Regions from separate parts of the Homo sapiens genome. Here region 1 is linked to region 2. The links come from fine-mapping of genetic effects on gene expression. A gene starts in region 2. The other region holds a variant in brackets. All regions are shown on one strand. Distances are between the middles of the regions.

Region 1 (2,906 bases), 23 kb after region 2:
CTGTGAGTCAAACATGCCTTTGTATCTACAACACTGCCAGAATTCTCTTTTAATGAGGACCAAGGCATCTCCTGGGGAATAACTTACCTTAGGCCAGAGTCAAATCCCTCCAGCTTGGTGGAAGATCAGTGCTCAACTTTCAGGAGTGGGATGTACACCAATAGTACCCGTGGATCTACCCTTAAAGCCAACTAAGAAGGCAGCCTGAGAATGAACACTGAAAGGGCTGTTTTCATAAAAAATCTGTAAGAGATTTTTCTTTTTTCTTTTACTTTTTATTTTAATGAAAATCTTTGGCATGCTGTGCCACTACATTGATAAAATGCACCATGAAAAGTGCCCTACTTCATTGGAGAATTCATTATGACTTCGTGGAGCAGAAAGAGTTGGCTCATTGGCAGCAATTTGAGTGGATTTGGTTCGCTGGAGGTATCATGTTACTGCGTCATCAGTGCAGGTGGGGCTGACTGGCTTTGACAGTAAAAGGAGGTGGCCCAGTGCCAACAGGGGCAGCAGAGGGGCTGCAGGAGTGCCTTCATAGATGCCGCACAGATGCTGCACACTGCCAGAGCAAATCTCAGGGAAGGAAAGATGGGGCGTCATACAGTGATTGTGAAGATTATGCTCTTGAGCACATGTGAAACACCTTTCGGAGCTCCTGAATTTAGTAGGCAAGGGTGAATTTTGAGAATAGACTGAAAGAGTTAACCATAGTTAAGCCTGCCTGGGGTGTAGGTTATGAATAGAGTAACATGTAATTTATTGTACAAACAGAGATGCCTTTGAAAATGAAGGATTTGCTACTAATAATTACACCAAGACAACAGATATAAACTATGACTGCCCTGGACAAACTGGAATGCATTGTCACACTATGAGGGACTGTCACCTTCGATTGTTAGTTTTGCCATGCTTGCTCTTTTATTCTAACCATGTACTGTTTTAAAATCAGAAAAATATAAGACACTATAATTTACCAGAAGAAATAAAAATCGAGTACGAGGGCAAAGATAGCAGCATAATGTTTACATTGTTAGGGTGACCCTAGTCCCCCCAACCATCATCCCCCTCCTGACCCCACATCACAGTTTAGAAAATTACATCTGCAAATTATTCAACATCCACTGGCGACCCCAGAGCAGCCTACCTTCCTTAGCAAGGCCATGCTGTCCCAGCAGTTCTGATGTGCCCTCACTTTAGTTATTTGATTTTCTGCTTTTTCTCTCTGAGATAGTAGCCTTCCAAGGTTCAAAGGGACATTTGAATGTTAAAAGCCTGGAGGTAAAGTTTACAAACACAATGCTTCCTCATCACAGCTGGCCACATCAGTCCTGTCAAAATGCTAATGGTAGAATGTTTCTTTATAAATAGAGTACCCATGAGATCAAGATCTTAATTTACTTTGTTCCTAATTCACAAAGGGAAGTTGCCTTCTTTTTTAAAACTAAGTTGAGGTTCTGTCTTTAGTAAATTCTTACATGTAGCTGGAAATTTCCATTGCAAAGTGTACTTGTTTTGTTTTAAGCTCTTTCCAAGTGACTTTATAACTTTTTTAACGTTTTGGCGTCGGCACTCTTCCTCTGTCCACAGAGCTGGTAAAGACAGAATTATGAACTCTTCTGGCGTTGTCCCAGCCCACTTCTTGGAGCCTTTATGAGAGAAGAAGTTTGGCAACTCACCTCCCAGTGCCCACAGGGGTGCAAATGAAGCTGGAGCTGAAGCCATCTATGAGAGCAGCTGGACTGCCAGTCCAATGACTATAACTCTGATAGCTCCACACAAGTTGAGAAGCAGCTTTTCAGCTGTGACAGGCAA[G/A]GCCCAGCAGGGGAAGTAGCTCACTGTCTGGTTTGATTTAAGATCACTGCCAAAAAATTTTCTTCATTAACTTCACAGTTATCTAAGCTCTATGAAGGCAGGGGTTTTTGTGTTTTGCTTATAGGAGTATGCTCAGGGCCTAGAACAGTGCCTGGGTTATAGTAGGAGCTCAAAAATATTTGTCGAATAAAAGCATATTTCTTCACCTTCAAAATGTCAAGATGGGATATTAATAAAACCTGTATCCAGGACTGATAGTCAGCTGATTTCCATTCTGATATATCATTTCAGTGTCACAGGATTGTTGTGGTGATTGTATGAATTAAAACATGAATTAAAGCACTTACAATAAAACCTGACACATATCAAGTGGTTAATAAATGTCAGCTGCCATCAATTTCAAGGCACAGAGGTTGACACCGAGGAAGATTGGGGAACACTGTAGGATCCCAGCAGGGGGCACTCCTGAGTTCAAGAAGCAATAACTGGTTCCTGCTGGGTCCTACTTGACTATGGGGAAGGACAGTTGCCAATGATGCTGTAGTCCTTGCTTCATGGGCCCAGGCTTACACCTGGCCAGAGGTCATACATTAACTTGTCATCAATAAATGGCATTTATGCCATCTGCACATGGATACTGTTCTCTTAGTGAGGAGATGGCAAAGTTCTGAAAGAATGGATCACAGGGCAGATAAGTTTTATCAGAGCGTGGGACAGTGCCCAAGAAGGGATAGCCCAATACTGCCAGGGTGGGGCACTTTGGAGGAGAGTGGCTAAGAGTGAGTGGCACGGGGAGCAGGGTGTAAGCAGAATAGGTAGGGGGGCTCTGCCACTAAAATATCTATTGACTACCCAGGAATAAAATGTGTTACAAAGATGAGAAGCTCAACAGTATTCTCAGAAGGCTTTTCAACTTAATTTCCCTGTTCCTTTTCCTAATTAGAACCTTGATCAATTTAGGATACAGTATATGGTACTCTTTGGTTAGGTTTATGTGTATGTAAGAATCAGGTCAATTGTAGAAGGTTAAACTGGATTAGAATGTATACTATTTGTGCATTTGGTAACAATAATTCTTATACTTCCCATTT
Region 2 (2,906 bases):
GCTGGCACAGGTCTCCTTCATTTTATACTCTACGACCTAAGAGTGCTTATAGCACAATGGGTGGTTGGTATCTATTAAACAAATGAATGTGTAAATGAATGATAGAAAGTAATTGGTGAAAAGTACGCTGAGATAGAGTCTGATCACAGGCAAAAAAAAAAAAAAAATGGAAGAATTAATAGTCCAATGGCACTTTTCTTATAAAACTGAATTACATAGTCAAACCATCATTTAAAATAATCTTACAAGGAAAACAACATTAATGTGCGTCTGTTGAGACGGATTATGCTGTTTTGGAATTAGGAAGAGAATGTGCAGTTCGCTGTTTGCTTTCAGACTGTTTGTTTGTTTTGTTTATTAAACTGGCGTCTCCAGCTCTGCAGCCCAGCCTGTGGAACCTAAATGGCCCAGGTCCCAGGAGTTCCCATCGGAGCCGTGGGCGTCCCCAGGGTTTAGAAAGGCTCCCCAGGGGCCCAAGCTGCCGGCGAGTGCAGCTCCCGCCGGCGCCACCTCTGCGGTCTGGAGCGGCGAGGACGATCCCAGAGAGGCGCCCCCACTGCCTCGGTCGTCGGGTTCTTAAGTTTTTCTCTCCAAAAATTTAATGGATAGTTTTCTTTTGCTTCTGTTTCTGACTTGATTAAAGAGGCGGAAAAAAAGGAGTTTGACTCCAAGAAGAATGATAGTAGCAGAAGGCGCATCTGGCTTTACTTTCCAAATTCCATCAAAGTTTGTGTTTTGTTTCATTTGACAGCGATCCCGTGAACGTCTCCTCTGGGGAAATGGCGCGACCAAAGCCCGCCAAGCCCAGCCTGCGAACTGGAGGATTTATTAATGTAATATGTTAAACAAAACCTCGACAGACACAAACTCAAAGGAAACCGTGCGCTCCTTAAGTCAAAGGCATCTGTTCTGGAAGCAGAACCCGGTTTGCTGTTGGTAACCAGCGTTAAGAGCAGGATTTTTAAACATGATAATGGATAAAATAAAAGAAAAGCGAAGTCCCGCGGTCCTCTGACTCCTATTCATTATCTCCAGCAGCATATGGGACCATTCTCCTACGTATCCTCGCCTTTTTCTTCTGAAAAAGCAAAAGCAACCAAGCCTGTCCCGCTTCAGAGCAATCCTACTCTTTGTGCCTGAGTAGTGCCACCACCACTACTTCCTCCTCCTCCCGCCTCCTCCTACCCCGCCCTCCTGCCGCTGGCTTTCGCTCTGGCGAGGAGGCGGCCGGCTCCCTTTGCGCCGGGAAGCCGGAGCCGCGATTGGGCGACGGTCCCTGAGCCTCCAGTTCTGCGTCGGTTTCAAGGCTCCTCCCTCCTGGTGAAAGACAGACTACGGGGCGCCTGGAAACCGGTCCGAGGGCGCGCGAGGCAGAGGAGAGGGAGCGAGTTGAGGGATTGACACAAATGGTCAGGCGGCGGCGGCGGAGAAGGAGGCGGAGGCGCAGGGGGGAGCCGAGCCCGCTGGGCTGCGGAGAGTTGCGCTCTCTACGGGGCCGCGGCCACTAGCGCGGCGCCGCCAGCCGGGAGCCAGCGAGCCGAGGGCCAGGAAGGCGGGACACGACCCCGGCGCGCCCTAGCCACCCGGGTTCTCCCCGCCGCCCGCGCTTCATGAATCGCAAGTTTCCGCGGCGGCGGCGGCTGCGGTACGCAGAACAGGAGCCGGGGGAGCGGGCCGAAAGCGGCTTGGGCTCGACGGAGGGCACCCGCGCAGAGGTCTCCCTGGCCGCAGGGGGAGCCGCCGCCGGCCGTGCCCCTGGCAGCCCCAGCGGAGCGGCGCCAAGAGAGGAGCCGAGAAAGTATGGCTGAGGAGGAGGCGCCTAAGAAGTCCCGGGCCGCCGGCGGTGGCGCGAGCTGGGAACTTTGTGCCGGGGCGCTCTCGGCCCGGCTGGCGGAGGAGGGCAGCGGGGACGCCGGTGGCCGCCGCCGCCCGCCAGTTGACCCCCGGCGATTGGCGCGCCAGCTGCTGCTGCTGCTTTGGCTGCTGGAGGCTCCGCTGCTGCTGGGGGTCCGGGCCCAGGCGGCGGGCCAGGGGCCAGGCCAGGGGCCCGGGCCGGGGCAGCAACCGCCGCCGCCGCCTCAGCAGCAACAGAGCGGGCAGCAGTACAACGGCGAGCGGGGCATCTCCGTCCCGGACCACGGCTATTGCCAGCCCATCTCCATCCCGCTGTGCACGGACATCGCGTACAACCAGACCATCATGCCCAACCTGCTGGGCCACACGAACCAGGAGGACGCGGGCCTGGAGGTGCACCAGTTCTACCCTCTAGTGAAAGTGCAGTGTTCCGCTGAGCTCAAGTTCTTCCTGTGCTCCATGTACGCGCCCGTGTGCACCGTGCTAGAGCAGGCGCTGCCGCCCTGCCGCTCCCTGTGCGAGCGCGCGCGCCAGGGCTGCGAGGCGCTCATGAACAAGTTCGGCTTCCAGTGGCCAGACACGCTCAAGTGTGAGAAGTTCCCGGTGCACGGCGCCGGCGAGCTGTGCGTGGGCCAGAACACGTCCGACAAGGGCACCCCGACGCCCTCGCTGCTTCCAGAGTTCTGGACCAGCAACCCTCAGCACGGCGGCGGAGGGCACCGTGGCGGCTTCCCGGGGGGCGCCGGCGCGTCGGAGCGAGGCAAGTTCTCCTGCCCGCGCGCCCTCAAGGTGCCCTCCTACCTCAACTACCACTTCCTGGGGGAGAAGGACTGCGGCGCACCTTGTGAGCCGACCAAGGTGTATGGGCTCATGTACTTCGGGCCCGAGGAGCTGCGCTTCTCGCGCACCTGGATTGGCATTTGGTCAGTGCTGTGCTGCGCCTCCACGCTCTTCACGGTGCTTACGTACCTGGTGGACATGCGGCGCTTCAGCTACCCGGAGCGGCCCATCATCTTCTTGTCCGGCTGTTACACGGCCGTGGCCGTGGCCTA

The links.
Region 1: its variant is fine-mapped to the expression of FZD1 in whole blood (TOPMed, PIP above 0.99). The same link has a PIP of 0.9 or more in blood mononuclear cells.

The regions. Positions count from the first base shown.
Region 1 is chr7:91,286,160-91,289,065 of GRCh38, forward strand. LOC124901695 (a long non-coding RNA gene) reads right to left here and starts at 1,273. Exons shown (of 2, transcript XR_007060425.1): 1 at 1,148-1,273. The variant G/A (reference allele first, on the strand shown) is at 1,816.
Region 2 is chr7:91,263,081-91,265,986 of GRCh38, forward strand. FZD1 (frizzled class receptor 1) reads left to right here and starts at 1,353. Exons shown (of 1, transcript NM_003505.2): 1 at 1,353-2,906. The coding sequence starts at 1,801. RefSeq lists an enhancer at 1,138-1,317 and silencers at 1,438-1,947, 2,038-2,097.